2 separate regions of the Homo sapiens genome follow, and region 1 is linked to region 2. Evidence: fine-mapped expression QTL. A gene starts in region 2. The other region holds a variant in brackets. All regions are shown on one strand. Distances are from middle to middle. Region 1 overlaps ELK3 (ETS transcription factor ELK3). Region 2 holds the start of CDK17 (cyclin dependent kinase 17).

Region 1 (16,904 bases), 160 kb before region 2:
GCCTCTCCCCCACCCCTGCCTGTGCTCCTCCACGGCTCTTCTCAGTTCCTACCCCAAATTTGTAACATAAAAAAGAGATGCTTACGTGTGTGCAGCATTTTGTTTTAAGCCAGGCACTGTGCTAGGTATTTTTACATCTATTAGCTTATTTTCCAATTTGTGATGCACCAGTGCTGGTGGTCGATATTGAGCCCATTGTAGAGGTGGGGATGCTGAGTCTCCAAGAGGTGTAAGTCACGGACTCAAGATGCAGCAGCAGGGCGGTGGCAGAGCTTTCAGACTAAGAGTGTTGACCCCCAAGGCCCATGCCTGGGCTTCCAAAGCTGGAGGGCGACACAGCTCCAGAGCCCTGGGCCCAGACTTGAGTCCTGTATGCCCAGTACTGCTGATGATTACCCCAAGGGCAGCCAGGGAGGAGAGACAGGCCCCCGGTATTTTTTAATTGAAATGACAGTGGAAAAACTGCTGGCAAGATTATCTGAGTCAGCTGAAAATGTGAGTTTGAGTGGCCCCGGAATACCCCACGCTTCCAGAAGACGCTTCCTATGGAAAGTACTGGAGCGTGGCACTCCTCTGCGTGTGCGCCTCCCAGCTCTCGGCGGCCTCCAGGAAGGAGTCCAAACTCCCTTCACCATCTCACCCCAACCCAACTGCCTTCCCTGCACCCCCACAGCCGCCCCCCACCCCAGCATCTTCTCAGGCCCCCTCCTTCCCCCTGCCCTTCTTGCCTGGCTCACTCCTGGCCACCCTTCAGACTCCTCTCTCTGCCTCCTCCAGCTGGCGCCTCACTTGGTGATGGCCGTGTCTGTTCCATGGCCCCTCCCAGAGGGACTTGGTTTCTCCTGCTGTCATTGCGTCTCCCTTACGGGGCCGCATGCTGGGTTTTCTTACCATTTCCTGCATCCTGCAGAGCCGAGGGCGTGGCAGCACCAATCAAGTGTAGTAGGAATGAGTAGGAAACAAGCATCCTTCTCCATGGCACAGAAGGGAGTCTGTCACCTTGGAAAGTCACTCAAGAGAGGATCCAAGAAAGCGTCTTGCCCTACCTACCCCTCCTTTAGCAAGTGAGGATCTTCGAGGGGAGGGGAGTTTCCAAGTCAACTGGTGACAAAGCCAGGATGAGAAGACACTCCCAGACCACCTGTGGCTAATGACACACACTGCCCGGCCATGCCATCTGCCAGCGCTGGAGGTGGCCGCTCAACACAGGAAGGTCAAGGTCAGTGTTAGCAGCTCCCCCACCCAGCAGGGGAAAGGGAAAGACTTGCACTGGGGAGCAGTTTTATTTATTTTTATTTATTTATTATTAATTATTTTTAGATGGAGTCTTGCTCTGTCACCCAGGCTGATGCAGTGGTGAGATTTTAGTTCACTGCAACCTCTACCTCCTGGGTTCGAGCGATTCTCCTGCCTTAGCCTCCTGAGTAGCTGGGACTATAGGTGTGCCACCATACCCGGCTAATTTTTGTATTTTTAGTAGAGATGGGGTTTCACCATGTTGGCCAGGCTGGTCTCGAACTTCTGACCTCAGTTGAACCACCTGCCTTGGCCTCCCAAACTGCTGGGATTACAGGTGTAAGCCACCACCCCGCCTGAGCAGCTTTATGTTCTATGTTATTAACACTTAAAAGGCCTTTGAATAAAAGTACCCTTGAGTGTTTAAGGAGAGCCAGGAGGGAGACAGGACTCCAGGTCCAGCCAGCAGCAGCGCCCAGCCAAGAAGGCAGGGAGAAAAATGCTGCGAACGTCCAGTCGAATCCTCCCGGGTTGGGGTGTCCTGCCAGGCCAGCAAGCCAGCACTTCTCACTAGCACCCTCAGGGTGCCACGTGTACTCAGGCAGCAGGGATGAAGAGCGCCTCAACTTCAGGCTGGCCAAATTTGGTGAGATAGTTCACGCTGCAGTTTACCGGTGCCAGAAAGCAAAGAAACCTCAACCCAAACCACAAGAAAACCTCTCCCGGGAGCCGACAGAGTTGGCCTGTTCAGAGACAGAGTTCCAGCCTTTGTTGGCAGCACGTCATTCTTAGAAGTCTGGAATGGGTGTGAGTGGGTGTGTACGTGTGTGTGTGTGCACACTCCAAAGTTCGGCTTTGCACAAGGGACAGCCTAGGCTCCACCTTACCCGGTGCCTGTACCATCGCAGTGGGAAGGGCTAGTTGCACCCCAGTGGCGGCCCCAGGCTGTGCCTCCTCTGCCTCGCTGAACAGAGACAATTTTAAGAAAGGGGTGTATTAGTTTCCCAGGGCTGCTGTAACAAATGACCCCAAACTTGGTGGCTCAAAACAATAGAAATGTATTCTCTGAAGGTTTTGGAAGACAGAAGTGTGTAATCCAGGTATCTGCAGGGCCCCGCTCCCTCTGAAGGCCCTAGGGAAAAATCCCCCCTTCCTCTTCTGGCTTCTTGTGGGCTCCAGCCACCCTTGGTGTTCCTTGACTTGCAGCTGCCTCACTCCAGTCTCTGCCTCCACGTCCCATGACCACCTTCCCTGTGTGTGTCTTTCTGTGTCTTCATGAGGACAGAAGCCATTGATTTCAGTGCCTACCTCAAATCCAGGATGATTCTGTCTCGACATCTTTAACCAATTACATCTGTAAGAACCCTGCTTCCAAATCAGATCACATTCTAAGGTCCTTGGTGGACATGAATTTGGCAGGGACATTAAACTCACTGCAGCGGTGGGTGGGGGAAGATTGCCTTGGTGAGAAGCAGCTCAGGTTTATGGGTCAGAGGAGCCCTTTCATAAGATGCTCTTAAATAGCTGGGTGTGGCGGCTCACGCTTGTCATCCCACTACTTTGGGAGGCCGAGGTGAGAGGATCGTTTGAGCCCGTGAGTCCAGGATCATAAGATGCTCTTTAGTGGGGGTGGGTGTGAGGTGAGCCTGCCCCCCAGACATTTGTAGCAGAGTCTCTTATGGCCAGCTGACTGCTCACTGTCCCCTCTGCTTCAATGGCAGAGACAGAGCAGAGGCAGGGGATGTCACACTGCATCCAAGCCACTGAGGGGCACTTCAAGGACAGAAGCTGGCTTCACTCCTTCTCCATTCCTCAGAGCCTGGCATGGGGCCACCCATAGGAGAGTGTGTATTCAGTGTTCACTGAAAGCCAGGTGTGGTGGCTTGAACCTATAGTCCCAGCTACTTGGGAGGCTGAGGCAAGAGGACCGCTTGAGCCCAGGAGCTCCAGGCTGCCGTGTGTAACAGTCGTGCCTGTGAATAGCCACTGCATTCCAGCCTGGGCAATGCCAGCAAGACCCCATCTCTAAAAAACAAAAACAATGTTTGCTGAAAGAATGTTTGCTTGTCGGAGAGATACAGTAACTACTTGTTCTAACTTTGGAGAAAGGACACTTCGGGTTTCATGTCAGGAAGGAGTGAGTCAGACTGTGGTCTGGAAGGGAACCCAAAAGCAGGAGTTGAAGAAAATGTGTTGGCCAGGAAGCCGCGGCCTGGAGATACTCCTCTGCTACTTGTGGGTGTTGTGAACTCAGCTGGGAGCCTCGGGTCTCACATCTGTGAAGTGGGTATCAAAGCGTTGTGAGGCTAACATGAGATTTTGTGTGAGCCTTCTGTAAACTGTAAAGTAAGGTGCCCACCCAAGAAATTTTCCTGGAAGGCAGAATAAAATGAAAAGTGTGATATAATGAGCAGTGTGTACGATTAGATTATTGCATGCTAAGCAAGATTCACTGGGTGAGGGTCATGTTGTAAGGACCTGTGTGAGTGAGGCACTGACTGCGTTGAGTCTTTAGAAAAAATTAGCCTATGGGGTATTTTTATTCCCATTTTAGGGGTGAGCAAACTGAGCCCCGTGTAGATGTTCAGTAACTTTCCCAAGGTCATAGTAAGCAGAGAGGCTGGAATTCAAACCCAGATCTGTTCACCCCAGCACTGGGTCCACATGACTTCTGGCCCGTCAAGGCTCCTGGCCTGTGCCCTTGTGTGAGCTGCTGCTGGGCACGGGCCTGGAGACAGCCGGGGGAGCTTGGCAGTGGGTGCCATCACCGGGCTGTATATGGTGGACACGAGCTTCCTGTTGTTTTCCTGTCACCCTCGTCCCTTGGATGGCATGCCACTTATAGTTTGGCTGCTCATGTCCAGTCTGCTGCACTGGGAGTGCTGGGTCCCCCGTGCCTCATGTTAGGGTGTCCCTCCAAAGCAGGCACCTTCTCTACCCTGTGGATTGGCAGAGGCAGTTCTATTTCTAGGTAATGAATGGACCTTACGGAAGATTGGTCTCTTCCGCCCGAAGAGCTAGAAATAACTGTTCTCAAGCAAGGCCCATGCTTTCTCAGCACAGAGCTGGTTTTCCCAGGCACTCTGCAGTTAACCCCACTATTACTCTGGAATGCAGAGACCCCTTGGCCCTGTCGGATTTACTTTAGTAGCAGCCTCTGCTTCCAAATGCAGCTGCTTTCTGGAAGAGGGTGTGGTAGTGGAACAGAAATGGCTTAGGTCTTGGCACTAGATACAATTGGGTTCAAACTTCGGCTCCACCAGTTACAAGCTGTGTGACCTTGGGCTAGTCAGCTTTTTAGTTCCTATTTCTTTCCCTTAAAAAGTCTTAATTTGACAAGTAATACATATCAAATATACATTCTTTAATGTGAAAATACACATAAGCAAAAAGAAATATGAAAAATCACTGTTAAATTTTAGTATACCTCTTTTAAGATTAATTTTTCTACCTCCTTTTATTTACACATATATGCATATATACAGTAGAAAACATATAAATATATATGCAATAGAACATTTTTAAAATAATGGAATTATTCATACTGTTTTTTTTCCCCACCTAATGTATATTTAAAGGTATGGGGAAGTGTTAGCAATGTCGTGTCCCCTGAAGTAGCTACGTGGTATTCCATTGTATGGCTCTCCCAATATTTAACCTACCCCCAGGTGGTGGACAGTTGGATATAACCTCACTGTCCAGGGGGACCTTGGCTTCTCCATCTCTGCAATGGGATAACAGTGCCCATCCTGCAAGGCAGCTGTGTGTGCTCAGCATGCAGCTGGCCCTCATAAATGCTGGCTTCTTTCCTTGTCCTTTCTCTGTACTGGTTCCTTTCACGTAGGGTATCTACCACGATAAAATGAGTGTGCCCCAAATAAATGCATTGTCTCGTGTGTCTGCTCAGCACCTGAACAGGTTCCTGCCTCGGGTCTTGCTGACAAGTGCGCAGGGCCAGCAGCTTCCCGTTGGCCTCTCCCAGGAACCCTGAGCAGAGGCCTGAGCCCAAGCAGACGCTGCAAGGCTGCTCTTCTCCCTCCCAGTCTGGGCAGCATGGTTTCTGCTCTGAGAAGCCGCCGGGAGCAGTTGAGATGAGCTGGGTGCCTGGTTAGTGTCTGCACCACCTTTCGGGGCCTGACATGTGGCGTCTCGCCTGTAGGCTGCGGCCAGCATCTAAGCGGAGCACTTGGATCTAGCAGTTATTCACATCTGCGGCTCCGTGTGTCCCCCTCCTAGAACCTCCCCACAACCCCCAAATTAATTGGATTGTGTAAGGTTTTCGTCACAGTGGATGTCAAGTGCTGGCCGTGTTAGGCACAATATAATATAAGCCTTGTATCTATTTCTTGTCTGAACCTAACTAAATAAAAACATCATGTTTCCCTGCTCAGTTGAGATATGTAAACCAGATGTAATTCTGCCTGCTGTGCAACTGATCATGTTACCCAGAACTTTGGACAAAGCTAGCAGAATATGCGCAGCCTTCTGTGAGGGTTAATTTTGTCTATTAAATTGTCATTAGGGCTGACACAGGGTGATATTTATGTTTTGTTCTGTTTTTGCTTAAATGGGAGTGTAAAAATGATGATAATACTAATAGCTAGTATATGTTATGGGGCTTGTCATGCGTGGATGCATCGGGCGTTCTGATAGAAGCTGTATATGGATGTCTCATTCAGTCCCATGAGGCAGATGGATCAGTCCCCATTTTATACATGAGAAGCTGAGGCATTGAACTCAGGCAGTGACTCTGGAGCCTCTCCTTTTAATCCCTGCAGCAGTCTTTGTGATAGGGTCAAGTGGGTATTTATTGGAAAGGTCCCCTGCTCTGTCCCCCTTACCCAGTGCAGGGGTTAAGAAGGGCCTGTTTGTTAGGAAAAGTCTTCAGCACAACCGATCCTGCTTGCTTACTGAGCTGCTGACATTCTCAGTTTTGAGAACGAGGTAGGAGAGTTGCAGAATCAGAGGGCAGGAGCGCTGTGTTTCCAGGGTGCCCTGAAATGGCAGAGGATCCAGGGGCCAGACCAGAATGACGAGGAACTCGCCACAGGCCTGGCTCCTCGCGGGGAGGAAAACGGAAGATCAGATAACAAGACTAAGCACGTGAACTCCAGATGCATAACCTTGGATCAAAATTGGGGTGCCAGACCAGAGTGGGTGGACAGACACATGCAGCAAATATTTGCCACGTAAATGGATGGGTGAAATTATGGCTCATTAAGCTCTCACGGGAGGTGTGAGGTTGTATGTAGCATGTGGAGTTTGCATATGGCCTCTAATATCTGCCTGGGAGTTTTCAGTTTAAAAATGCCAGCAAAGAAGAACAAGCAGGTATATGTATGGGATACACCCACAGGGAGCTTTAACCAGCCTAAGAATGAGCCGTGGAAAATTGTGTCTTTCATGCCTGTGGCTTTATGCCTGGGTCAGTTCTCCTTATAGTTGGTAATTCATTCAACAAACATTTAATTAACTCATTTAAATATAATCCTAATAACATCATCAAGAAGGTAAATCTAATTCCATATGCATCTTTTCATTACCTAGCACTGCATATGCTTTTTTTAAATTACAAAACTTATCGAAATATTTCTCATCTATCTACTATTTGAGATTATTTACACAGACTCCTTCCTCTTCAAAGGGCACAGTGGAGCGTTTGTGTGTGTGTGTGTGTGTGTGTGTGTGTGTGTACATATGTAAACACACTGTGGACAGCCATACCTTTTCTTATAGGTAGGTATGCCTGTAACCTGTCAGGGTAACAGACAGCACTGAAATGGAAATGGAAATATGACCTGCTCTCTTGGCATTTTCTATGCAGTTAAAGTGAAATAATTGAGGGATCCTGTCACGAGATCCTGTCATGGGCTGCTGTCATGGGATGCCTTGGTCCCCAGAGGTGGCTGGTGAGTTGGGAAGGGTTCTTCTGCACAGGTCTGCCCGGAATCCTGTCCCAAAGGGACGACTTGCCCTTTAGGCTACTACTGCATTCTCAAAATGGCAACTTGGACGGGGTGAGGGATTAATTTTGGTATCTGGTCCTCCTCTTTTGCCTGGAACTGCCACTGGGCTCTGTTTGAAGGGGATGTTGCTTTTTCCTCTCACTAAAATTGGTCCCATCCTTGCTGCCCGTAACCTCACATGGAATGCCTGCCGGGCAAAGAGGCAGCCCTTTTGCAAATACGTATTTAATGGGAAATTACAAAGAGACTGGTCCCACCCATGTAAGAGGGAAGCGGATGTGTGTAACACTCTAAAACCACGCTGGAGATGCACTCAGCTCCACCCGACACAGACCAGCATCGCTCAGGTTACCAGGCAACTGTGAGCAACAAATACTTGTGAGTCTGGGATTGAAGGGGGTGGAAACCCGACTTTTTCTAAATATCCTCATCACTTACCATAATAAGAGCCCTTACCCAAGTGTGCTTGTGTCCCGGGCTGCCTAAGTTGGCCTGAATCTTGTGTCACCCTTCATAGTAGCCAAGACCTCAGGAGTCAGATTGCCTGGGTACCATCTGTTCTCTCCAGGTACAAGCTTCCAACAGTGTATAATTTATACTTTCCGAGCCTCAGCTTGCTTATCTCCAAAATGGGGATAATAATCATTCCATTCTCTAAGAGGATTGAGTGAGTTGATGGTTGACAGGTTCTTAGAAGATAGCCTGACAAATAATACGTGCTCAGCACATACTAGCTTGTATTATTCCTGACACTGAGTCTTCTCAGCAAACTCTTGGAAGGAAACTTCCCTCTGGAAGCCACAGAGAGATCTTCAAACATACATGGCGCTGCTTCTGGGGGCAGCCCTGGAAGATAAGGAAGAAGGGGCTGTCAGTGCAGCTGCAGGGACACACGTCCTCTGAGCCCAGGTTGTTCCTAATCCTCCAGCCGTGGGCACCGCTGTGGGGGGCTTTCCTTACCAGCTCCCCTCGTCTAGCAGATGTCCCCGGTGCTGAGTCACTGGGCTGCACTGCTCTGACCCACTTACTGTACCCGACCCTGCCCTCTTCCCTCCCAGTTCCACTCTTTAGCCTTCGACCCTGGCAGGTTTCCAGGTAGCCAGATCGAATCCGTCTTTCCCATTGGTCTCTAGAGAAGCATGACCTGCCTCGGTTCTTTCCAATGGCTGTCACTTCCTCCTTTTGGCCAGCTAGTAAATTGTCTCCATCCCCGTCACTGCGTAACCTTTCCCCAGAAAACTCTTGGTGTCCTCTCTGCTCCCCCAGCAGAGGCAGCAGCTACTGAAGGGCCCTTCCCAGTGTCTCCCTTTTTACATTCTGAGTAGGGTTATGACAGTTGCTTCTAGCTATAGAAAGTTCCCACTGTCTTCCACTTAAACACGTAAAATACTTAAGATTCTTATATGTTCTTTTCTTTAAAAACCAGCTTCATTAAGATAAAATTCACATACCATACAATTCACCCATTTACCATATACAGTTCAGTGGCTCTGAGTATAGAGTTCTGCACCCATCACCGTGACCCACTTTAGAACATTTTCATTACCTCCTTCCTTCCACCCCTCTCAGCCCTAGGTAACCATGCTCTACTTTCTGGTTTTTTGTATAGATATCATGATTCTGGACATTTCATATAAATGGAATCATATGTGACCTTTATCATGTAATATCTGGCTGCTTTCACTTTGCAGTGAATCATAGAATAGAATATTCTATTCTATGGCTCATGCCTATAATCCCAGCACTTTGGGAGGCTGAGGCGGGCAGATCACCTGAGGTCAGGAGTTCAAGACCAGCCTGGCCAACATGGTGAAACCCCGTCTCTATAAAAATTAGGCAGGGCGTGGTGGCTCACGCCTGTAATCCCAGCACTTTGGGAGGCCGAGGCAAGGCAGATCACGAGGTCAGGAGATCGAGACCATCCTGACTTACACGGTGAAACCCCATCTCTACTAAAAAAAATTAGCCAGGCATGGTGGCGGGCGCCTGTAGTCCCAGCTACTCAGAGGCTGAGGCAGGAGAATGGCGTGAATCAGGGAGGCGGAGCTTGCAGTGAGCCGAGATCACACCACTGCACTCTAGCCTGGGCAACAGAGCGAGACTCCATCTCAAAAAAAAAAAAAATTAGCTGGGCATGATGGTGGGTGCCTGTAATTCCAGCTGCTTGGGAGGCTGGGGCAGAAGAATCGCTTGAACCTAGGAGGCAGAGGTTGCAGTGAGCCGAGATCACGCCACTACATTCCAGCCTGGACGACAGAGCAAGACTCCATCT[C/CA]AAAAAAAAAAAAAAAAAAAATCTATGATTCTGTTTAATGAAATTGAGGCCCATTATGTTATGTTTGTTCCTTACTATTCCAAACAATATTCCTTATTGTTCTTACTATAGTCTAGTAATTCATTATTCCTCAAATAATGAATTCTAGGCCTTGGTGCAGAGCTTCATTCTTTACTACAGCTGGATAATATTCCATTGTAAGGACACCCCACATTTCATTTATCCTTTTGCTGGTTGGTGGACAGGTGGGTTGTTCCTCATGTTCTTTTTAACACAGCAAGGCCATATGATCTGTCTGAGGCTGCCTTTCAGTTCCCAACCATTTTTTGAGCAGGAGAGACATTTTCTGTCATTTTTATCACAGCCCTTGGTTATTTCTTGATGTGTTCATGAATGTAATCCCAACTTAGACATGATGTTCCAAACCTATAAGAAAATTAGAATTTTTTTTTTTTTTTTTTGGGAAAGAAGAAACAGTTATTTAAGACTTGTTAGAATAAATGATTCAGATCCTTTTTCTTCTGTGTTTTTATTTTGGCTCTAAATAAAACATTTATAGAAGTTTGTCTTTTGTGTAATTATTTAGGCTCTAAAAACTTCACTCAGTTTAGATGAGTGTTCAAACTCGCTGAGGGAAAAAAATAAAGTTTTTCCCCAGGGAGAAAAATATTATGAGCTAAAACTAAAAATAACTTAAAATTTTAGCGAAGGAAGCATTAACACACCAGGCCAGCACACTTTCTTTTTAATGGGAACTGACCCTGGGTCAGGTGGGTCCAATGACACCCTTATTTAATTTATTTCCTGCTGGGAGCTGATTTTCCTGGGCATGTTCTGACCCAGGGCACTCGGCAGAGACGCTGCTAACAAAGTCCAGGTGGAAAACATCTGAGTTTCCCAAATTTCTCTAAAGGTTTTTAAGGGCTGTTCAGCTTCGAGTAGCAGCGTGAGTGTGAGGTCGCTGGCGTAAATGAGACCCCGCGGGTTAAGTTGCAGGTGGGAGCTCCAGGATGCAGCAAGGTGGCCGCGGCCACTGGAACTGTTGTTTGGCCTTGACTCTAATCTAAGGTGCCCTGGGCGTCGGCCTGTATGCTGGTGCTCAGTGAGGTTTCTCCATGACTCTGTATGAGATCTCCTGTGCTGAATGGGACCCTTAAATGTGCCCTTCGCTGCCATCATTTAAGGAGGGAAAAGGCAAATCAGAATGTCATAATGTAAAGGATGGCAGGCAAACACATGTTTTTAGAACCACACTATGATTTCAAAAGGCACATCAACATTCAGTTGAATTTCATGTCTATTGGGGGATCTTTGATTTCTCTCCCCCTAAATTTGTGTGGGGATGTGAAAAAGCTTACGCTTTAGAATCTGTCGATCTTGGTGGTTCTTGGGCAAATGACTCTCCATCCCTGGGATCTTGTTTGTGTCAGAAGGATGACATCCTCCACCTCCATCAGGGCTAATGTGGGGATCTAATGAGGTGCCTTATGTACAACCCCTGGTACAGAAGAGAGGCACTCAATCAGAGCTGCTTCTAAAGCTCTTCTACTTGAAATGATCTTTTTTTAATCCTCACTCATACCCTGGTTTTAGGTGGAATAGTTTCTAAGGAAACAGAGTCCTTTTCCCATAGGATGGTGCTGGGTTTTTGTGCTTGAGAGAGACCATCTTTGTCTCTCTGAGCCCCTTGGACGCCAAGATGCATCCACAGGGCAAGGCACACGCAAGCATTTGGTAGGTAAATATAGAACCCAGTGGGTTCGGCAGGGAATTAAAGTATCCATTTAATAAACCTCAAGAACAGCATAGCCTTTAATATAAAGTCCCTTCTCCCAAAGGGTTGCAAAAACTTTTGCAATGATTATTGCTTTTCATTTATAGCCTAATGTTTGAGGACTGGAGCCATAAACTGAAGAGCCAGAAGTAGACGCTAGCAACTAAAAATACTGTCAATGAATGTCACAGATATCCAAAGTAGACAATTCGTTTTCCTTCCAGTGGCTTTCTTGGCAAAAAAAATAAAAATTAAAAAGGAAAAAAATGACTGAGTTAAGAAAACGTTGTAGTGTTTGATGATGATAACTTGCATTTTATAATGCTTTCCAGCTTACAGAATGCTTTCTCATTATTATTTCATTGAATTCTTCTGACTCGCAGAGGTAGGTAAGACAATACTGTGTTATGGTTCAGGACATGCTGCCTCTACCACTTCACTTCCTAGCAGGTGGTCATGTGAGTTAGGGAAGTGCTCTAAGCTTATTTTCCAAATTTTTAAAATAGGAGTCACAACACCTTCCTTTTAGGATTGCTGTTCAGATTGTATGAGATAAGATATGAATAATCCCATCCACATAGTAAAGGCTTCATAAATGGCAGCTGTTACTATGTTATTACATAGAATAATCCTCACTCGGCCAAGGTTGGGGGATTGCTTGAGTCCAGGAGTTTGAGACCAGCCTGAGCAACCAAGTGAGATGCTGTCTCCACAAAAAATAAAAATGTAAAAATTAGCAGGGTGTGGTGGCATGTACCTGTAGTCCCAGCCACTCAGGAGGTGGAGGCAGGAGGATTGCTTGAGTCCAGGAGGTTGAGGCTGCAGTGAGCCATGTTCGTGCCACTGCACTCCAGCCTGTGCGACAGAGTGAGACCCTGTCTAAGAAATCATCATCATCATCATCATCTTCCTTACTTTACAGACGAGGAAACTCAAAGTGGCACTTAATTTGCCAAAGATCACAAAGATCTAGTAATGGCAGAACTGGAATGCACATCTAATTCTACTTCCAACTTCATTCCTCCTTCCACTTTTCCTTAGCCAAGAATGTAAATCAGGAACATTTTGGTGCTTCTGCCAGCGACATTTACCATTATCATGAGCTCTTACATGGTTTCTCGGGTGCACTCAGATTTTCAACGTCTACTTTTGTATTTGCAGAACATCATCAAGAAGGTGATCGGGCAGAAGTTTGTGTACAAGTTTGTCTCTTTCCCGGAGATCCTGAAGATGGATCCTCACGCGGTGGAGATCAGCCGGGAGAGCCTTCTGCTGCAGGACAGCGACTGCAAGGCGTCTCCGGAGGGCCGCGAGGCCCACAAACACGGCCTGGCCGCCCTCAGAAGCACGAGCCGCAACGAATACATCCACTCAGGCCTGTACTCGTCCTTCACCATTAATTCCCTGCAGAACCCACCAGACGCCTTCAAGGCCATCAAGACGGAGAAGCTGGAGGAGCCGCCCGAAGACAGCCCCCCCGTGGAAGAAGTCAGGACTGTGATCAGGTTTGTGACCAATAAAACCGACAAGCACGTCACCAGGCCGGTGGTGTCCCTGCCTTCCACGTCAGAGGCTGCGGCGGCGTCCGCCTTCCTGGCCTCGTCCGTCTCGGCCAAGATCTCCTCTTTAATGTTGCCAAACGCTGCCAGTATTTCATCCGCCTCACCCTTCTCATCTCGGTCCCCGTCCCTGTCCCCCAACTCACCCCTCCCTTCTGAACACAGAAGCCTCTTCCTGGAGGCCGCCTGCCATGACTCCGATTCCCTGGAGCCCTTGAACCTGTCATCGGGCTCCAAGACCAAGTCTCCATCTCTTCCCCCAAAGGCCAAAAAACCCAAAGGCTTGGAAATCTCAGCGCCCCCGCTGGTGCTCTCCGGCACCGACATCGGCTCCATCGCCCTCAACAGCCCAGCCCTCCCCTCGGGATCCCTCACCCCAGCCTTCTTCACCGCACAGGTAAGAGTCATTCCTGTCATCTAAGCCACAGCCAGCTTCAGTGGCTTAGCAAAAAAGGAAGAGCAACTAAAGAGACTTCCTTCTGTCCCTCAAAACGTTGTCCTATGACTCGTACCGAGGTCACTGTGTAAATGTGAAGGGAAGCTGCTTTTCCATCCTCAGACCAAGGGGTGCACATGAGACAGGGTTTGGTTTGTCGACTCTAGTGGGATGCTTGATTGGTTTCTTGCTTTTAGCGGCCTAAAGTGACCATAGGTGGAACACGCACACTGGCCGACAAAGCAGATCTCACCAGCGATTTCCAAGGGAAAGTTGAGCGGGCCAGTTTACATTTCGGGAGGCGCTTGGGCTTTATGAAATTTTTATGGCAGAATCTTCTCTGGGGGCGCTTAATAAGGAGCCACTTGTGTTCTGTTAACAAGAAAATAGATGTCAACTGATGCCGCCATCGCATGTCAGTGTGGAGCTGTGGTCATAGCGTAGGTAATAAGAAACAAAGGGGCCACCCCAAACAGCTGCTTCGCTGAAAGCAGCACTACTCTGAGAAAGCCCCAGTCCACAGCACTGGCGAGAGGACAGCAAACTTGCAGAGCCAAAAAAGCCTTCGTTGTTATTAGTCCCAAAGAGAAAGCAGCCTTTTCCTTTAAATCAGATATTCAGATGCTCTTTCTTGTCCAGCTGACAATTGCAGTGCAAAGGCGTAGTAGGTGCTGGGAAACCATATTTCTCCTTCCCCTTGAAAATTGGATGCAATTTTAGTGGCAGAGGTTAAAAGAGTATTCGTTTTAGGTTCACAGACCTGCATTCAGTTCCTGGCTACCCTGCTTCCTAGGAGTGGGACTGTGGGCGGTTGCTCTCTGGGCCAGGTTCCATGTGTGGAAAATGGGACCATGGACAGGCTTTGTGAGCTGGGGACACCTGGTAGCATTGTTAACCGTGGAGCTGCACCCGTCCCCTGCCTCTGTAATCTCATCGTAGTTGTCCCTGTTGTCATTAGCAGCAGCCGCGGCAGCATATGACGGGCTCCCCACGTGTGCCAGGCACTGCTCCAGATGCTTTACATGCATTGCCTGTATCCACACTTACAGCAGCCCTGTCACGTGGATACAGGTTGAGCATCCTGTTTCCAAAATGCTTGTGACCAGAAGCATTTCAGAGTTCAGATGTTTTCAGATTTTGGAATATTTGCATGATACTTGCCAGTTGAATATCCCACATCTGAAAATCTGAAATCCAAAATGTTGCAATGAGCATTTCCTTGGAGTGTCATGTCAGGACTCAGAAAGTTTCAGATTCTGGAGGATTTGGGATTTGGGAATTTTTGGATTTGGGATGCTGAGCCTGTGCTATTATTATCATCCTGTTTCCCAGCTGAGATAAATGAGGCACAGAGGTAAAGTAGTTCGTCCAGGGTCCCACAGCCAATAGGTGGTAGAGGTGGCTTTGGATCCAGTGTCTGCCTCCAGAATCCATGCTCTCAAATGAAATGCATTCCCGCTGCGAGAAGGCAGTGTCCCTGATCACGATGGCCGTCCATGGAGCACCTGAAAGCAGCTCTGGGCCACTGTCCTCTCCACGCTTTCTCTGGACTGGATTCTGCCCAGGATTTCATGACAGCTCAAGCCTGTGAGCTGGTGGTGACGCGCGCCACTGCGGAGGGGGAGGGCCAGGGGATCAGGATATAGGTCAGAGTGAGCACGTGTGCTCTTAAATCAGGCATCTTCCAGTTAAGCAAGGCTGTCCAGTGACCAAGGGCTGCTGAGCAAATGGCTCAGAAACAGCAGCTCCTGATGTAGCTCAGGGGAGTATCTTGAGAGGCAGGGCCAGGGTAGATGATCTGAGCATCTCCTCCCCTGGCCTCCTGTGTGTTTACAACTGTCAGGGTGAGAAAGGTCCGAAGCCAGGCCAGGGCTGACTCTGATTTAGGTGTCTGTGTTCCCTGGGAGCCTGGATCACCTTCTCAGAACAGAGTGAGGCAGATGCCAGCCCTGTCTCAGAGGAAGTCAGCTCAGCCAGCCCTGTGGATAATGTGGATGGAGTGGTGGCTCCCATCGGTGGGGCTGAGGGCGTGAGAGAAGGATCAAGGGTGGATGCCCAACAAATGGATGCAGAGGGCACGACCAGGAGCCAGAAGCCACCAGCATGGCCTGAAACTAGGTGGGAAGGCGTAGGAAAGCCAGGATCTTTACAAGAGGACCTGTGCCTTAGGCAGTGAGGGTGCCTGGTCCTCAGCCAAGCTGTGAGGGTGGGGCTGTGATGATTTAGTGCCAGGAAGCCCAGAAATGGTCCTGAGGGGAGGGAGGCAACAGGCAGCATCTGGACCCAGGGCAGGAGAGTGGAAGTAAAGGGACCTGGCTCAGAGAGGGCCTTCGGGTCAAAGGAGGAGGAGGGGCACCAGGCAGTCCTCTAAACCACGCAAAACTAAGGGGGTCACCAGCTACACTGGGAGATGGTAGAGCCTCGGGACTCAGACCCCACTTTGAACTTCCCTCACATTCCCAGAGTGTGGGCTCTGCTCCTGGCATGGCCATGGGTGGCCAACAGGGAGGGAGAGAAGGGGCAATGAGGGAGACACCAGAGGGGCCCGGGTGGTAGTCAGGGGTGTGGTACTTATTCAGAGTTGAGTTCTTGCAGCCGGTTTCACCCAGGCGGATTCCCTGAGATCAGATAGGATATCTTGAAGCCAGGGGTGGTTTAGGATTAGGGTATGTCAGTGTCAGATTTGGACTCTCAGATTCCCTCCCCTGGGAGCTGCTTCAGGGGGTGCCCCAGAAACTCACCCACCAGCACCAGCTCAGTAGTTTGTCTTCCAGGTGACAGCCAGAAACAGCGTGGCTCTCAACAGCCAGGCATTCTGTGGAATTCCTTTCGGCCTCAGGAGTGAAGGACAACTGTGGGGTTCAGGGTGTTCCACAGGCAGCAGTGAGGCTTCAGTGGTTTTCCTCTTACCTGAGCACTTTGTCACAGAAACTCTCCTTTTCTCTGTGTGTGGGGGGTGTGCTGTGTGCAGTGTGATGCTGTGTGCACATAAACATTTGATAATCTGTGGGCTGTCAGCTTTGCTTAGTGGTGGGCTTTGGAAGAGGTGAAAGCTGTGTGTGCTGTAATAACCCGATACCCTGAAGGTACAAATTCCGAAGGTTGGTTATTTCCAGCTAGAATCATGGCAGGAAGAAGGGGAGAAGTAAGGGAGCCTTGGCATGGCCTGTGTCACGTGGTTACCTTATCACACCTCATACAGGCATCCCTCATTTTACTGTACTTTGCTTTATTACGTTTCACAATTAATTGGTGGTTTTTACAAATCGAAGGTTTGTGGCAACCTGGCGCTGAGCAAGTCTTGTCAGCGCCAGTCTGTTCTTCCAACAGCACACACTCACTCCGTGTTTCAATGTCACATTTTGGTAATTCTCAAACATTTCCAACTTTTTCCTTACTATTATGTCTGTTATAGTGCTCTGAGATCAGCGAGCTTTGATACTACTATTGTCATTGTTTTGGGGCACCATGAACCACACCTGTATAAGACAGCAAACTTGATCAGTGTTGTGTGTGTCCCAACTGCTCTCCTGTGTCAAACTTGATCAGTGTTGTGTGTGTCCCAACTGCTCTCCTGTGTCTCCCTCTCCTTGGGTCTCCCTATTCCCTGAAACACAACAATTTTGAAATTAGGCCAATTGATAACCCTATAGTGGCCTAT
Region 2 (15,092 bases):
TTACTATGTATGTATCTCTTTTTGTTTTTTCATTCTGGTAACCAGAGTACATATGACAGGCTGCATTATTTCAAATACCTAACACTGAAAGTTACTTTCTGGCCTGAATCTAAGGATGAGAATGATACATTTTATAGAAGCTTCTTTTAGTACAGCAATAGGCAAATTACGATATTAACAAGACTTTAATTCTACATTTACATTTTTTTCTCATTGTAAATGTAATGTGAAACTTATAAAATACAGGAAAAAAATGTTTAATCACCAATAAATCCCACCATTCGTAAACCTTGCTACTTTTTGGTAGATTTCCATCTAGTAACACTGAAGGTTCAATTTTCTAATTCGATACTGATAAATATGCAGGAAAAAAAATCAATGGAGCCTCAATATGGCCTTTCAATAAATGTACATAAAACAACAATTATTAATTATATGACCTGTTAATTTCACAAAAGTCTCTAAAATGTTTTAAGTGGTGGAGTAGGGTAAGGAGTCCATAATTCAGACACTAGCCCTCAAACTGAAATCTCTTCCACAATGTTTGTATGTCAACCCTTTAACGGCAGTGAGCAGCAAGCTATGACTGTTCGTACAGTGATATCAACATTAATGTCTCTATATTAAACAGGCTTTGCTTTTATTTTCTTTCCATTTATACTTCAATAGTGTTTTATTTTCACTGTAAAAATAAATAATAACCTATATTTGCATAGTAATTTTACATAAGCTTAAATTCAAAGACTCCCGTTTTTTTTTAAGCCAACCATTCAAACTGTTAGTGCTTCTGGCCTATGAGATGGTTTACCAGATAAAGTAACATTCTTTATATTCCAATATTCTCTCTCATAACATAAAAAAGAATTTAAGGAATATCCCTTAGTCACATTTTCTTTTGTTCCAACCCACTGTTTATGGAAGCATGCAGATGTTAAGAGTTGCAAAAATTGAAATGACTTCATTAACAAAGCAACATCCCAACGTTTAATGTCAACTCCTCAGACTCATAAAAAAATGAAACAAAACCAATTATATTACCACTAGCAAATTTTTTCCCCTTAAAATCTAGTTTCGTCTTATTTCTAGTTTCAAGGCAAGCTTTGTCTACCCAAGGTATCAAAGGTCTTCAAATCTCATTCATTTTCTTCTGCCCAAGAGTTAAGAAAGTAAGTCTAAAACAGAACAAGCCAGATTTGTTGCTGTGATCTTCTCACACGAACGCCTTTTAAAAGAAATCTTTCAACAAAGACTCAAAAAAGAAACAGCAAAGTTTGGGGAAAGAATTGTCTGTCTTTAGGTCAAGCATTTCCTGATAAGTGACTGAAGGTCTGGCTGCCAGGAATACACTTTGCTGACCCTAGGAATGGCCAAGTCTCAAAACAAAATTTGCCTCTTCTGTATCTTGAAAGTGACCTGTTAGGACCTGATGTCAATTTGACGAAGAGGTGATAGAACATGACCAACGAGGTGTCTTTGGTGGACATATTCATGTAAAGGAGGCGAGAGCCACAGATTTCAGCTAAACGCTTTTTGCCACTTTTGCAAAAGAAAAGCTAATTGTTAACGGCCATGTGACATTATAGATCCCAGAAAAGGAAAGGGTGGGAGGAAGAGAGAGAAGTTCAAGGCAGTTCAGGGTCAGAACAAGCTCAGACATCCTGTCATTAACAAATGTTCCCCAAGCTGAAAGCAAAATACTGCTTACCCGAAAAGGAGTGGGTGAAAAGTAGGGGGAGAACGAGGGAAAAACCACAGGAGAGTCAATGTGGCAGTGTGGGGGTGACAGGAGGGAGGGAATCTGGAGCTATCCAGCTGAGTTGGGGAGCAAAAGCATCGGGCATAGCATCGGGCACAAAAATGCTGAGAAAAGCAACTGCGACGGAGACAGCACTAGGCACCCTCCTCCCCCCATTTTCCCCTCCCCATCGGTTTGCTGGGTTTCCCACCTTCCCTCTACCTCCGCTCTTGACCAACACTCCGGGGTGTGACCCGCCAGCAGGAGGCTGCCCTGATCTTTGTCTCTACCCGCTCCCACGCGCGGGCTCCTCCTCCTCCTCCGCGCTCCCCACCCGCGCACAGCGCCAGCGTCTCCAAGGAGCTGCAGGCGCCGCGACCGCCGCCTCCTCGCCCACCTCCCGCGGACCCGCGCCCCTTCCTTCCCCTCCCGGGCAGCGTCGCCTGCGCCTCCAGCTCCACCCCCGCCGAGGGGACCTTTGTGTCTCGGGGGACTTTCTGCCTCTTTCCCCTCCTCCGCCTCGCGAGGAGACCGGCCTCCCCCGCAGACCAAAGCGGCAGCGAGCACCGGAGGCGGCGGCGTCTATATCTGTCGGCGCCTCCTGGGAAGCAGCTCGCAGACACTCACACCCCACCCGAGCCCCGGAAATCCCCGGGCGACCCAAGGTCCTCGCTGGACCGGAGAGGTGACAGGCGCACGCTAGCCCCCCGCGCCGCGCCTCCTCGCTCAACTTCCCGACCGGGCCTGAGCCACCCGCGCCCCCAGTAGCCCCCGCCCCCGCCTCTGTCCCACGCAGCCTCCCGGCCCCGCGGCCGACCCGACACCAGGGGAAAGCGCGGCGCGGACGCCAGCCGCCAACTCACCAGCAAGAGCGGGGACCGCGGGTCCCGAGGCGAGGCGAAGAGAGGCGCGGGGGGAAGCTGCTCCGCGGACGCCCGCGGCGACCGGATGCAAGTCCGGGTCTCAGCGGCCGGCAGACGTGAGGCGCTTCCGAGCGCAGGCCTCCGCCGCCACAGCCGCCTTCCGGCTCTCGCCGCGGGTCCGGAGCCTCGGGAGGGGCCGCGGGTGTCTCACGCGTTGCCAAGTCCCTCGGTCAACATGGCTCCCGCGCCGACGAGCCGCGCGGACGGCCCACTAATCCCCTCGGAGCAGCCGGGCGCGAGCGCGGCGGGCGCCGACGGCGGGCTGAGACTGTCTGGCCGGGCGCTGGCTCCTTCTCCGCGGCTCTGCGGCGGCCCGCGGGGAGCTCAGGAGACTGCGGGCGGCCGCGTTCGCTCCTTGCGTGTGCGTCGCTTTCACACTCGGCGGCTGCGGATTGACGCCTCCGCCTGTTCCCCGGAGGAGAGCGAGTGCAAGAGAAAAAACACTTTTATTGAAACGATCCAACCAGCGGCGGCGGAGAAAAGCGACCGGCCGCGGGAGCTTACCCCACCCCCGCCTGAGCGGCTCGCCGGGGGCAGCGCGACCCCTGCCGGCGGCGGCGGAGGCGGGGGCGGGGCCGGCGGCCGGGGGCGGGGCCTGCAGGGCGGGGCGGGTGTCCCCGGGAAACTGCCCGCTCCGAAATGCGGGCGTCGGGGGAGCGGCGGAGGGGGCCAGGGGACCCCACCGGAATGAGTGCCTGTCCGCAGCGACTGGGGGAGAAATTATGTGAATAATTCAGCCCCTCCAACATCCCCCTGCCCCTCAACTTCCCGCTACCAAACCAAAACTCGTGCTTCAGTTATACAAGTAATTACTGTACAAGGTGTCCATGCCACAGTTCTCCACTGACTTTCTAGAGAGTCCATGTCAAAGGACCCACACTGAAAGATGTTGATGGCTGCAACTTTTCTCCTTTGTTGTGTGTGGGTACGTGGGTACTAGTGCCGCAGTCTCTCACACACACGGCATCTATTCATTTAAACTACAGTACAGTGTTTTGTATATATTATCATGTGCCCGGCAATATGCTGAGTCCTCTAAGGACGGAGAGTCTAGCTGGGATGAAAGATGATCAATAACTATCATAAAAATCTGAACGTTATGAGCGGAGAAATACAAGGTGCTATGAAAACAGAAAGGACTACTGTTGCACGGGTTAGGTTTTGTTTTCTTGGGGGAGGCGGGCCGCGAGAGGTTGGCCCAGTTTCTGCAACTGTTTTTACTTTCTCCTTTCCCAGAGGCTAAAAGCTAGTTCAGGAATGAACAGCAGAGTGGCAGTGAAGACAAACTAAAGTAATACTGACCCACTTTTTTCCACTAATAAGGATAAAAGCATAAAGTTAAAACAAACTTAAACCCCTAGAGGGAGATAATGAGAGGATTGAAAGAAGAGAGTAGGGACCGGATGTAGACAACATAAACAAGAAAAAAAAACCCACATAAAAGTCCTGTGAAGTGAGATAAATTTTTTTTCCCATGTTAACACCCGGAAGTAGAAGCTGCTTTGAAGTTTCAAATCACATTATGTGCTAAGAACTTCGGGGAATTATCTTTTTGGATTTAGGGATGAATCCTTTCCCCCTTAAAAATGCTGCATGCTGACATCTTTCTCTTATTTTGTTTGGCAAAGTTAAATGCATCTACAGTTATATCCAACGATCGTACGTGTCAATCAGGCTTTTCCCATGCCTCTAAAATTACCAGGACCCGTAAATTAGCAACAATTATGCTCTACGCGTATTTAACACTTGTTTACCAACCAAGAATGCAAATATACATAACAAGCTTTCCGTTAGAACAAGTGCGCTTTGTTTAAAAGCACTGTTAATGAGGCTTTTTAGATTTGTCCAAGTCAAACTTGGAACTTTATAATATAGCAAGATGTAGCATCATTTTCAGAGTTCTTTTTAAGTTAAAGAGAAACACTGATATTTATACAAGGCCTATTTATATGAAAGGATTTTCATATACTTGCCTCATCTAAATTAGTACTTTAGTAAATATCAAAAAATCACCAAAAAAGGGAGTCTATGAAATGGCATTCTGAGTTTCAGCATTAATACTTATACCTTCATATCATTAGATTAACATTACTCCATGAGAAATAAAAAGATTATTCTGTCTCATCCAAAGCACCCTCTCCTCTTTCTACATCTTTCATTAGCATAACAAAGAATTCGTAATTGGGAGGCTGAGGTGGGAGGATCCATTAAGCCTGGGAGGCGGAGTTTGCGGTGAGCTGAGATTCTGCCACTGCACGCCAACCTGGGTGACAGAGTGAGACACCGTCTCAAAAAGAAAAAAAAAAGACGAATTCATAATGAAAACTTAGGTGATTATTTGATTGATTGGTTTGTTATTTCTTTTTTTTTTTTAAGACAGAATTTTGCTCTTGTTGCCCAGGCTGGAGTGCAGTTGCGTGGTCTCAGCTGACTACAACATCCGCCTCCCAGGTTCAAGCGATTCTCCTGCCTCAGCCTCCCAAGTAGCTGGGATTACAGGCATCCGCCACCACGCCCGGCTAATTTTTTGCATTTTTAGTACAGACAGGGTTTCACCCTGTTGGCCAGGCTGGTCTCAAACTCCTGACCTCAGATGATTCACCCTCCTCGGCCTCCCAAAATGCTGGGATTACAGGCGTGAGCCACCGTGCCTGGAGGATTTGTTCTTTCAATGAAAAAAAAAATTACAGATTGCACAATATTTATTTCATTACTTTTCATATTTATTTATTTATTTATTTATTTAAATGAGATGGAGTCTCACTATGCCGACAGCCCAGGCTGGTATTAACTCCTGACATCAAGCAATCCTCCAACCTCGGCCTCCCAAAGTGCTGAGACTACAAACAGGAGCCACCACCCCTGGCCTATTTATTTATCTGTTTATTTATTTATTTTTAGAGGGAGTCTTGCTCTGTCACCCAGGCTGGAGTGCAGTGGCATCATCTCAACTCACTGCAATCTCCATCTCCTGGGTTCAAGCAATTCTCCTGCCTCAGCCTCTTGAATAGCTGAGATTACAGGTGCCCATCACCACGCCCGGCTAATTTTTGTATTTTTAGTAGAGGCGGGGTTTGGACATGTTGGCCAGGCTGGTCTCGAACTCATGAGCTCTAGTGATCCAAAGTGCTGGGTGAGCCACAGCACCCAGCCCCATGGCCTATTTAATTACTTTTCTAAACCGATTTAAAATTTGGCCAGGCGCGGTAGCTCACACCGGTAATCCCAGCACTTTGGGAGATCGAGGCAGGTGGATCACTTGAGCTCATGAGTTCGAGACCAGGTTGGCCAAAATAACAAAACCCCATCTCTACTAAAAATACAAAAATTACCCAGGCGTGGTGGCAGGAGCCTGTAATCCTAGCTACCCAGGAGGCTGAGGCAGGAGAATCGCTTGAACCCAGGAAGTGGAGGTTGTAGTGAGCTGAGATCACACCACTGCACTCCAGCTTGGGTGACAGAGCAAGACTCTGTCTGAAAAAAAAAAAAAAAAATTATATGTAATATTGTGAGCATGTTAGTTGTTTTTTCCGTAGGTTGTAATATAGGCTTTTTTTTTTACCTTGTAAAACTATGTTAAATTATAAAATTACTTAGAATATTTCCCTAACTGTCATTAATAGATATTCCATAGTGCTTAGTGGAGGAGAAAGATTGAGGAAGAATTCCAAGATCAAATCCACTTGAGGAATGCCACATACTTTATCTCCCTTTTGGAAATTCACAATATACATTTACGTATTTAAGGCTCTTAGAAGTTCTGAGATTGAAAAATAATCTTCTTTCCAGTGAAACAAGTATATCCCAAAATGTTTTCACCATAGAATAGCTATATCATGTGACATATATAAAAATATTGAGGGGAGAAAATTTTGAAGGTCATTGAACTTTGGACAAAGAGAGTTAAATGTGGTAAGTCCAGAAAATCTTTGCTGGGATTCACATTCTGAAAATGACACTGTCTGGGAAACAAATATGAAACTTTCAGGTAAGATACAAACAAGAAACACTTAAGCTGGTTTTCAATTGCTCTACATCAGTGGTTCTCAGCAGTGTTACCTGGGAATTTCTTAGAAATGCAAATTCTCAGTTCCCGCTCCAGACCAACTGAATCAGAAACTCTAGTGTGGGGCCCAGCAAACTGTTTACAGAGATTTTCTAAGATTCTGCTGAACAATAAAGTTTGAGAATCACTGCTCTATACAACATCAATACATAGCTTTGTTTACAAAACAATTTTCCATATGTCTGAATTTCTGGACTATTTCTAATTATTTCATATTCCTTAAAAATTCTCAAAGAAATTAGATTACTGACCAAATAGAAAAAACACTTTTTGTCTGGGTTCATTCCCTGTTTTACTAGGCTGAATCATATAGGAAGTCTGTGTGTTTGTTTGCTTGTTTTGCAAGAAGAATAAAGCAAATTAAGCTAAGGACAGCAATCAACAATTTTCCCCCAATAGCAAAATAATTTTACATTTGGCAAAAATGAAGCTGTAGGCAAGAAAGGAGTTTTGTCAAAGGCTTTTTAAAACCTGCTTCAAAAATGAAACATCTAGCCAGGCCTTAACATTTATTTTTAATATTTTGTACCATCCCAACACCTGCAAAACAGCTATATACCATTGCATAATGATACAGTTGTACCCTGTCACTTAAAGCTTAATGGTAGAGATTTTACAGAGCAGATCTATTTGATATTATCAGAATACCTCCATAGATTTACAAGTTACAAATTTGGGGAGGGAAAATTTCTTCCCTATTTACATGTAAAATTTCAAATTTGGTGTACCAGATTTAACCCTAGAGGATGAATAACATCTGAGACATTTGGTCTCGTCCAGGGAGCGTTATAAAAAGCTTTCAGCAGAGTGATGTCATGTGTCCTTACAAGGGAAATGAATCCAGGAACCAAACTGAATCTTGGCAGTTAAGGGGGACAAAATTTTCAAACATTTTATTTTGAAATGAAAGTTTTCTCTAGTTGCTGACAAAATGCTTAGGGAGAGTTAGTTTCCAGGCTTCCAGTAAGACTGCATACACGTCTCTATTATGAGATTAAGATGGGATTAACTAGTTTTTTCTTCATTTCTTTTTTAAATGTAATATCAATACCTCTTAACTAGATTGATGTTCTGCCTCTGAGAAAAACCAGATGTGGGTCTTAATCAAATACAATACATTTAAAGTTTATTTGAGCTTTTTAAAAAAAAATGAAGCATAACATGAAGCCATTGTTTTTTGTTTTTGTTTTTGTTTTGTTTTGTTTTGTTTTGAGATTTTGAGATGGAGTCTCGCTCTGTTACCCAGGCTGGAGTGCAGTGTCACAATCTCGACTCACTGCAACCTCCACCTTCCAGGTTCAAGCAATTCTCCTGCCTCAGCCTCAAGAGTAGCTGGGACTACAGGTGCCCGCCACCACGCCTGGCTAATTTTTGTATTTTAATAGAGACGGAGTTTCACCATGTTGGCCAGGCTGGTCTCGAACTCCTGACCTCTAGTGATCCACCTGCCTCGGCCTCCCAAAGTGCTGGGATTACAGGTGTGATGAAGTCATCTTTAAGCTTTAACAAATGTCTTGCTTAAAAAAAAAAAAAGTTGGAAAGTGGGAACTGGGGCAGTATAGGTTTTCCCTTCTTAAGCAGGTTGAGAAGAAGAAGAATGTGGCAACTGGCCATTTCCCCAGGAGCTTGTGGGAATTATCACTATCTTTTTTCATCTTTTCATCTTTTGTTTCTTTTGAGACGGAGTCTCCCTCTGTCACCCAGGTTGGAGAGCAGTGGTGTGATCTCGGCTCACTTCAAGCTCCGCCACCTGGGTTCTAGTGATTCTCCTGCATCAGCCTCCCAAATAGCTGGGATTGCAGGTGACTGCCACCACACACAGCTAATTTTTGGTAGAGGCAGGATTTCAGTATGTTGGCCAGGCTGGTCTCAAACTTCTGACCTCAAATGATCTGCCCACCTCTGCATCCCAAATTGCTGGGATTACTGGCGTGAGCCCCCTCGCCTGGCCTTTTTCATCCTTTTTTTTTTTTTTTTTTTTTTTTTTTTGAGACAGAGTTTCACTCTTGTTGCCCAGGCTGGAGTGCAATGGTGCAATCTCGGCTCACCACAACCTCTGCCTCCCAGGTTCAAGCAGTTCTCCTGCCTCAGCCTCTCAAGTAGCTGGGATTACAGGCATGCATCACCACGCTCAGCTAATTTTGTATTTTTAGTAGAGATGGGGTTTCTTCATGTTGGTCAGGCTGGTCTCAAACTCCAGACCTCAGGTGATCCACCCGCCTTGGCCAACCAATCTGCTGGGATTACAGGCGTGAGCCACCGCGCCTGGCCTTTTCATCCTTTTTTTTTTTCCTTTTTTTGAGATGTAATTTTGCTTTTGTTGCCCAGGCTGGAATGCAATGGCGTGATCTTGGCTCACTACAACCCCCACCTTCCGGGTTCAAGAGATTCTCCTGCCTCAGCCTCCAGAGTAGCTGAGATTACAGGTGCCCACCACCATGCCCGGCTAATTTTTGTATTTTTAGTAGAGACGGGGGTTTCTCCATGTTGGTCAGGCTGGTCTCGAACTCCTGACCTCAGGTGATCCACCCGCCTCGGCCTCCCAAAGTGCTGGGATCACAGGTGTGAGCCACTGTGCCCGGCACCTTTTCATCCTTTTAATGGGAGAAGGGAGGGATGGTTTGTCATCTTTGAAATCTGGCCCAGTGATATGCTTTTAGGTAAGCTGATAGGACTGATTTGTAGTCTTCTAGTATTAGTAGTTCAGAAGTGCAAATTTCAGTAAACTAACTTTGCCTTGCCCTAGCCTACATGACTCCCAGGACCATCCTAGAATTGATATGATCTGTGAAGAAGACTAGAGCAAATATTTGGAATATAGATATTGGAAAAATGGAAAAATAAAAAACGAGGAAGAGGGGAAAGAAGACAAAAAAGGTAAGAAGCAGGGAAAAGGGAGAATTAAGTCTTATACAAGTTTTATTTCAGCAATAAGAAAGCTGCAGATGTTGTTAGTGTTAAGCTTCATGTAATAGAAAGAAAGAGTAGAAAAGCATAAATTAAGCAGGTCAGGGTTCTAGCCCTGAAGGAACATTGCATAGTAATAGGGCTTTGCAATCAGTTGGATTGGATGGGAGTCCTAATTTTGTCACCATGAGATTTTGCTAAATTACTTAACTAAAAGTTTCTCCATATGTAAAATTGGGTTAACAGTTTACTTGCCAGGTTGTAAGGATTAAATAAGATAATGAATGTAATGCATTGTATCTCAAGTTTTTCTGTTGTAAGTGACATGAATAACAACTCAAACAATACAGAAAGGGGATTTTGTTGTTGTGTGATTGAAAAGACTAGGGGCCGGGTGTGGTGGCTCACGCCTGTAATTCCCAGCACCTTGGGAAGCCGAGGTGGGTGGATTACCTGAGGTCAGGAGTTCGAGACCAGCCTGACCAATATGGTGAAACCCCTTCTCTACTAAAAATACAAACATTAGCTGGGCATGGTGGCATGCGCCAGTAGTCCCAGCTACTCAGGAGGCTGAGACAGGAGAATTGCTTGAACCTGGGAGGTGGAGGTTGCAGTGAGCTGAGATCACGCCACTGTACTCCAGCACAGGTGACAGAGCAAGACTCTGTCTCAAGAAAAAAAAAAAAAGACTAGGGATGGCGCAGACTTTAAGGTCATCTTAGCCAACAGCTGTCCCGATGTCATCAGAACCTGGTTCCTCTCCTTTCAGTTCTGCTTTTGGTGGCCTTGGCTCTCCACCCATTAGGTCAAAAGATGTCTGTAATATTTATAGCTCTAAGCTTCTAGGTTCAAGTCCCAAAGGAAAAAGGGAGTAACATCTTTAGTAGCACAAATATTAGCTTTATTTAGCTCAGCTTAAATCACTGACTGTCACTGTGGCCAAGGCAGATGAGTGATTGGCTAGGGCCTGGACATATGCTTAACCCCAAAGACAGGGTGGAGTCTGCCTCAGCTGAATCACATGTGCTGAGAGTATGGGAAGGGCGGTCCTCCCAAAACAAGAAACAGGTGCTTTTACCATAACTAGGGTGGTGGATGCGGGGCACCCACTTAATTAAAATGCAGGAAGCCAGGGATGAGTGGGCTTTATCACTAGCCAGATTCAGGAAGATTGTCTTTCATCTGGGCTTCTGTCTATGTGCCAACCTCATTCTTTATAAGTTCACTGACAGCTCTGAGATCACACCTTCACAGTTCCTAATCCAAGGGGAAGGAGGTCCATTTAGAAAATTCCAAGGAAAGACTCTGATTGGCCTGCATCATACTAATCAGAAGGGTCCCACCAGACTACATGGAATGGGGAAGACGCAGTTGTCCAAAGGAGTGGAGGGTGCTTCTAGCAGAAGTAACAGGTGTGGGGTGGAATGCACGACGGTCAGAAACCACTGGTGTCCACTATACATGGGTAAATGCCAAGGGCATAATCAGAAATTGAAAATCAGAGAGGGCCGGGCGTAGTGGCTCATGCCTGTAATCCCAGCACTTTGGGAGGCTGAGATGGGCAGATCATTTGAGGTCAGGAGTTCGAAACCAGCCTGGCCAACATGGTGAAACCCTGTCTCTACTAAAAATACAAAAATTAGCCTGGCATGGTGGTGGGCGCCTGTAATCCCAGCTTTTTGGGAGGCTGAGGCAGGAGAATTGCTTGAACCCGGGAGACAGAGGTTGCAGTGAGCTGAGATCACACCACTGCACTCCACCATGGGAGGCAAAGCGAGACTCCGTCTCAAAAAAAAAAAAGAGAAAAAAAGAAAATTAGAGAAAGTATAAATTTTGACAAGTATAGGAGGGCAAAACAAAAAAAGGGACAAGTGAAGGGATAAACAAGTTGATACTGTAGGATACTACTCAGCAATAAAAAGGAATGAATTACTGATACATCCAACAACATGGATGAATCCCAAAATAATTACGCTGAGCGAAAGAAGTCAGACCAAATAAAGAGCACACACTGTATGGTTACATTGTTATAAAACTATAGAAAATGCAAAATATAGTGACAAAAAGCAGATCAGTGGTTGCCTGTGTCTGAAGAAGGGAAGGATTACCAAGGCGCATGACACTTGTGGAGGATGACAAATGTGTTCTCTTTTTTAAATCATTGTGGTGATGGCTTTATGGGTGTACACTTATCAAACTGGACACTTTAAAGATGTGCAGTTTATTGCATGTTAATCTTTCGGTTAAAAACAGAAAGAGAATGGGATCCAAAACACTGTGCTGTTTAATGGCCATTTGAAACCACTGTATTATCTGACCTGTCTGTACAAGCCTGAATTTTTCAAAACACACTGTTAAAAATGTGGGCTTTCTGTAAGTATATCTATATAGAAGTCACATCGCTTAACCCATAGTTGGTTTCTAGCCTCAGGGTCAAAGAAGAGGTTAATATAAGCTATAAGTATACTTTAAAAATACTTCTTTTTTCTTTTTTTTGAGATGGAGTCTTGCTCTGTCGCCAGGCTGGAGTATAGTGGCATGATCTTGGCTCACCACAACCTCCATCTCCGGGGTTCAAGTGATTCTCCTGCTTCAGCCTCCCAATTAGCTGGGATTACAGGCACGTGCCACCACACCCAGCTAATTTTTGTATTTTTAGTAGAGAGGGGGTTTCACCATGTTGGCCAGGATGGTCTCGATCTCTTGACCTCGTGATCTGCCTGCCTTGGCCTCCCAAAGTCTGGAATTATAGGCGTGAGCCACTGCGCGCCCAGCCAAAATATTTTTTTTGACATTTTATCTCTGTAGTGCAAGAGTGTAGCAGTGGGCAACAGTGAGTGAGGCGTGCCTGAAACCTACTTAACTCTATGTAAAATATTGACCTGGTAAATCCAGGATATCCTGTTAAAGCAGACTGTAATATGCAATAAATGTCAGTTCCCTTCTCCCTCTACTTCCTCAATGTGGAAATAATCTGAAAAGTTTGAGATATTGTTCCATCTCATGTGTGTATTTAATGTAAATTTGCCTCTTTTTATATTCCTAGTCTGAACTGTAGATCATCTGTGCAATTAAAGGTGCTTTCCTTCTAGGCAGGGAGAAAATTGCCATTAGGTAGGATATCTTATTTCTTTGGGCACCCTGATACTCAAAGTCATTAGATAAATCACAATTAAAATTGTTTTCTTGAGCTCATAACAATTACTCATCCTTAAATTCTAGTTTGATTGGAAGGCATCAGAAGTGCTGATGCCTTCTGCAAATGCAAAGACATTTCCAAAGACCACTTGTGTTGTTTACAAGATCATTTTCTTATAGTGTTAAGAAAAAACACTTAGTAATGTAATCTGTTTAAAAAGATTTTTGAAGAATCGTGGTGTGTAATGAAAAAATAAAAAATAAGATAAAATAAAATAAAAAGTTATTTTACATGTTGGGATCATTCACATCATTTTAAATGAACCCACTGATAAGGTAGTCAGTGCCTGTCTGTGCATCATGCTTTATTCCTTTACTACTTTCTATCAACTGCTAGGCATGATGGAATAAAATATTTCAGGCCTTTTTTATTTCACATAAATGTTCTAAAAAATTTTAGCATGATGCAGCAGAATATAGAATTCAAAGTGGGACAGGTGTTGTGGTTCATGCCTGTAATCCTAGCACTTTGGGAGGCCAAGGTGGTAGGATCGCTTGAGGCCAGAAGTTCCAGACTACCCTGGGTAACATGCCAAGACCTGGTCTCTAAAAAAGAAAAAAAATTAGCCTGATGCAGTGGCTTGCACCCGTAGTCCCAGCTACTCAGGACATTGAGGCGGGAGGATCACTTGAGCTCAGGAGTTCAAGATTACCATGAGCTATGATTGTGTCACTGCACTCCAGCCTGGACAGCAGAGTGAGATTCTGTCTCTAAAAAAAAAAAAAAAAAATAGTGAAAGGAACCTGAGCCTGGGTTTAGATCTGGGCTCCACCATTAATTGTAAGATATTGAGAAAGATAGTTAATCTTCCTGAGCTTCAGTTCCTTCATATGTAAAATGTTTGTATCTCATAGGGCCTTTCATGAGGATTCAACATGACACCAAATATAAAAGTGCCCACCAATAATTGGCACTTTACAGGCAATGAGTAAACGTTAGTGTTCTTCCTTCCACTCCCGCACACCATGACTGCAAAAGTCATGGAAAAAAATACTTTGAAGAAAATGCATCTAGGAAGGCAGAGTTTATAATGCTCAAAAGAAGTCATCTGTCTTCTATGGAGATGCACTACAATATTTAGCAAAAAGTAAAGCAGAAAAAGAAACATTTTTTGCTTGAAGATTTGCAGCCCCATTTAGGCCAAAAAAAAAAATCTATGTTTATTTCTTAGTGTATTATTCATCATAAGTATTACCTAACATTCGGAATATGAAGGGTCAGTAATAGCTACTGTGAACAAAATACATGTCGTTTGTGATCTGAAAAGATTCTCCTGTAAGGGGACCAAAGCACCTGAACCACAGATTCTTATTTACCTGCTTTCTATAACCTGTATTTACAAGTACAGCTATAAATCTAAATTTATTTTATCGGAGGAACTCAAACAATTTTAGGATTGGAAACTAGAAGTTATCTAACTGTCATATATACTTTTTTTGAGACAGAGTCTTGCTCTGTTGCCCAGGCTGGAGTGCGGTGGTGAATCTCAGCTCACTGCAACCTCCGCCTCCTGTGTTCAAGCTATTCTCCTGCCTCAGCCTCCCAAGTAGCTGAGACCATAGGTGTGCGCCACCAAGCCCAGTTAATTTTTGTATTTTTAGTACAGACAGGGTTTCACCATATTGGCGAGGCCGGTCTCGAACTCCTGACCTCAAGTGATCCACCCCCGGCTTGGCCTCCCCAAGTGCTGGGATTACAGGCATGAGCCACCGCACCCGGCCTCATATATACTTTTCAACTACCATTTCCTTCAAGAATTCCTTCAAACAATTTATATTTCATGTCTACAATGAACCAGGCACTGTAAATAATGGAAACATGACACAGGCAATGTCCCAGTCCTCAAAGGGCTTAGTGTCTATCGGGGTGAAGAAGGTCTGGCCATAACTTAAAAAGAGCTAATAGCCTAAGATAAAAGTTTGAATATGCTGCTCAGTAGAAGAGGGGGACTTCTAGCTGGGAGAAGTGGTAGGAGTAGGAAACCAAAGCAGGTTACATTGCTTAAGAGACAAGTTGATGAGCACTTACTGGTGCCTAATTAGGAATCTAGCATTGAGTGCTATAGAGAATGCAGCAGTACCTTAAGTGGCAATCCTTGGCCTCAATGAATGCATAATATGTAGTTTGACCAAATATCTTAGCACAAAGCAGAATTTGGAAGGAAGTCAACCTATTTCTATTCGTTCTATAGCTTCTGACATATTTACTTCAAATGTTAATTGTTTATTAACAGTAAAACTACATGCAAGGTTTTTTATTTGC

The links.
Region 1: its variant is fine-mapped to the expression of CDK17 in whole blood (INTERVAL, PIP 0.92).

The regions. Positions count from the first base shown.
Region 1 is chr12:96,234,531-96,251,434 of GRCh38, forward strand. It overlaps ELK3 (ETS transcription factor ELK3), which reads left to right. Exons shown (of 5, transcript NM_005230.4): 3 at 12,410-13,204. LOC124902991 (a long non-coding RNA gene) reads right to left here and starts at 1,066. Exons shown (of 2, transcript XR_007063414.1): 1 at 892-1,066. RefSeq lists enhancers at 476-1,460, 3,502-4,002. The variant C/CA (reference allele first, on the strand shown) is at 9,475.
Region 2 is chr12:96,397,388-96,412,479 of GRCh38, forward strand. It overlaps CDK17 (cyclin dependent kinase 17), which reads right to left and starts at 3,052. Exons shown (of 17, transcript NM_002595.5): 1 at 2,599-3,052. RefSeq lists silencers at 2,456-2,615, 2,796-2,975, 3,066-3,395, 6,709-6,808 and enhancers at 3,816-4,035, 10,307-10,356.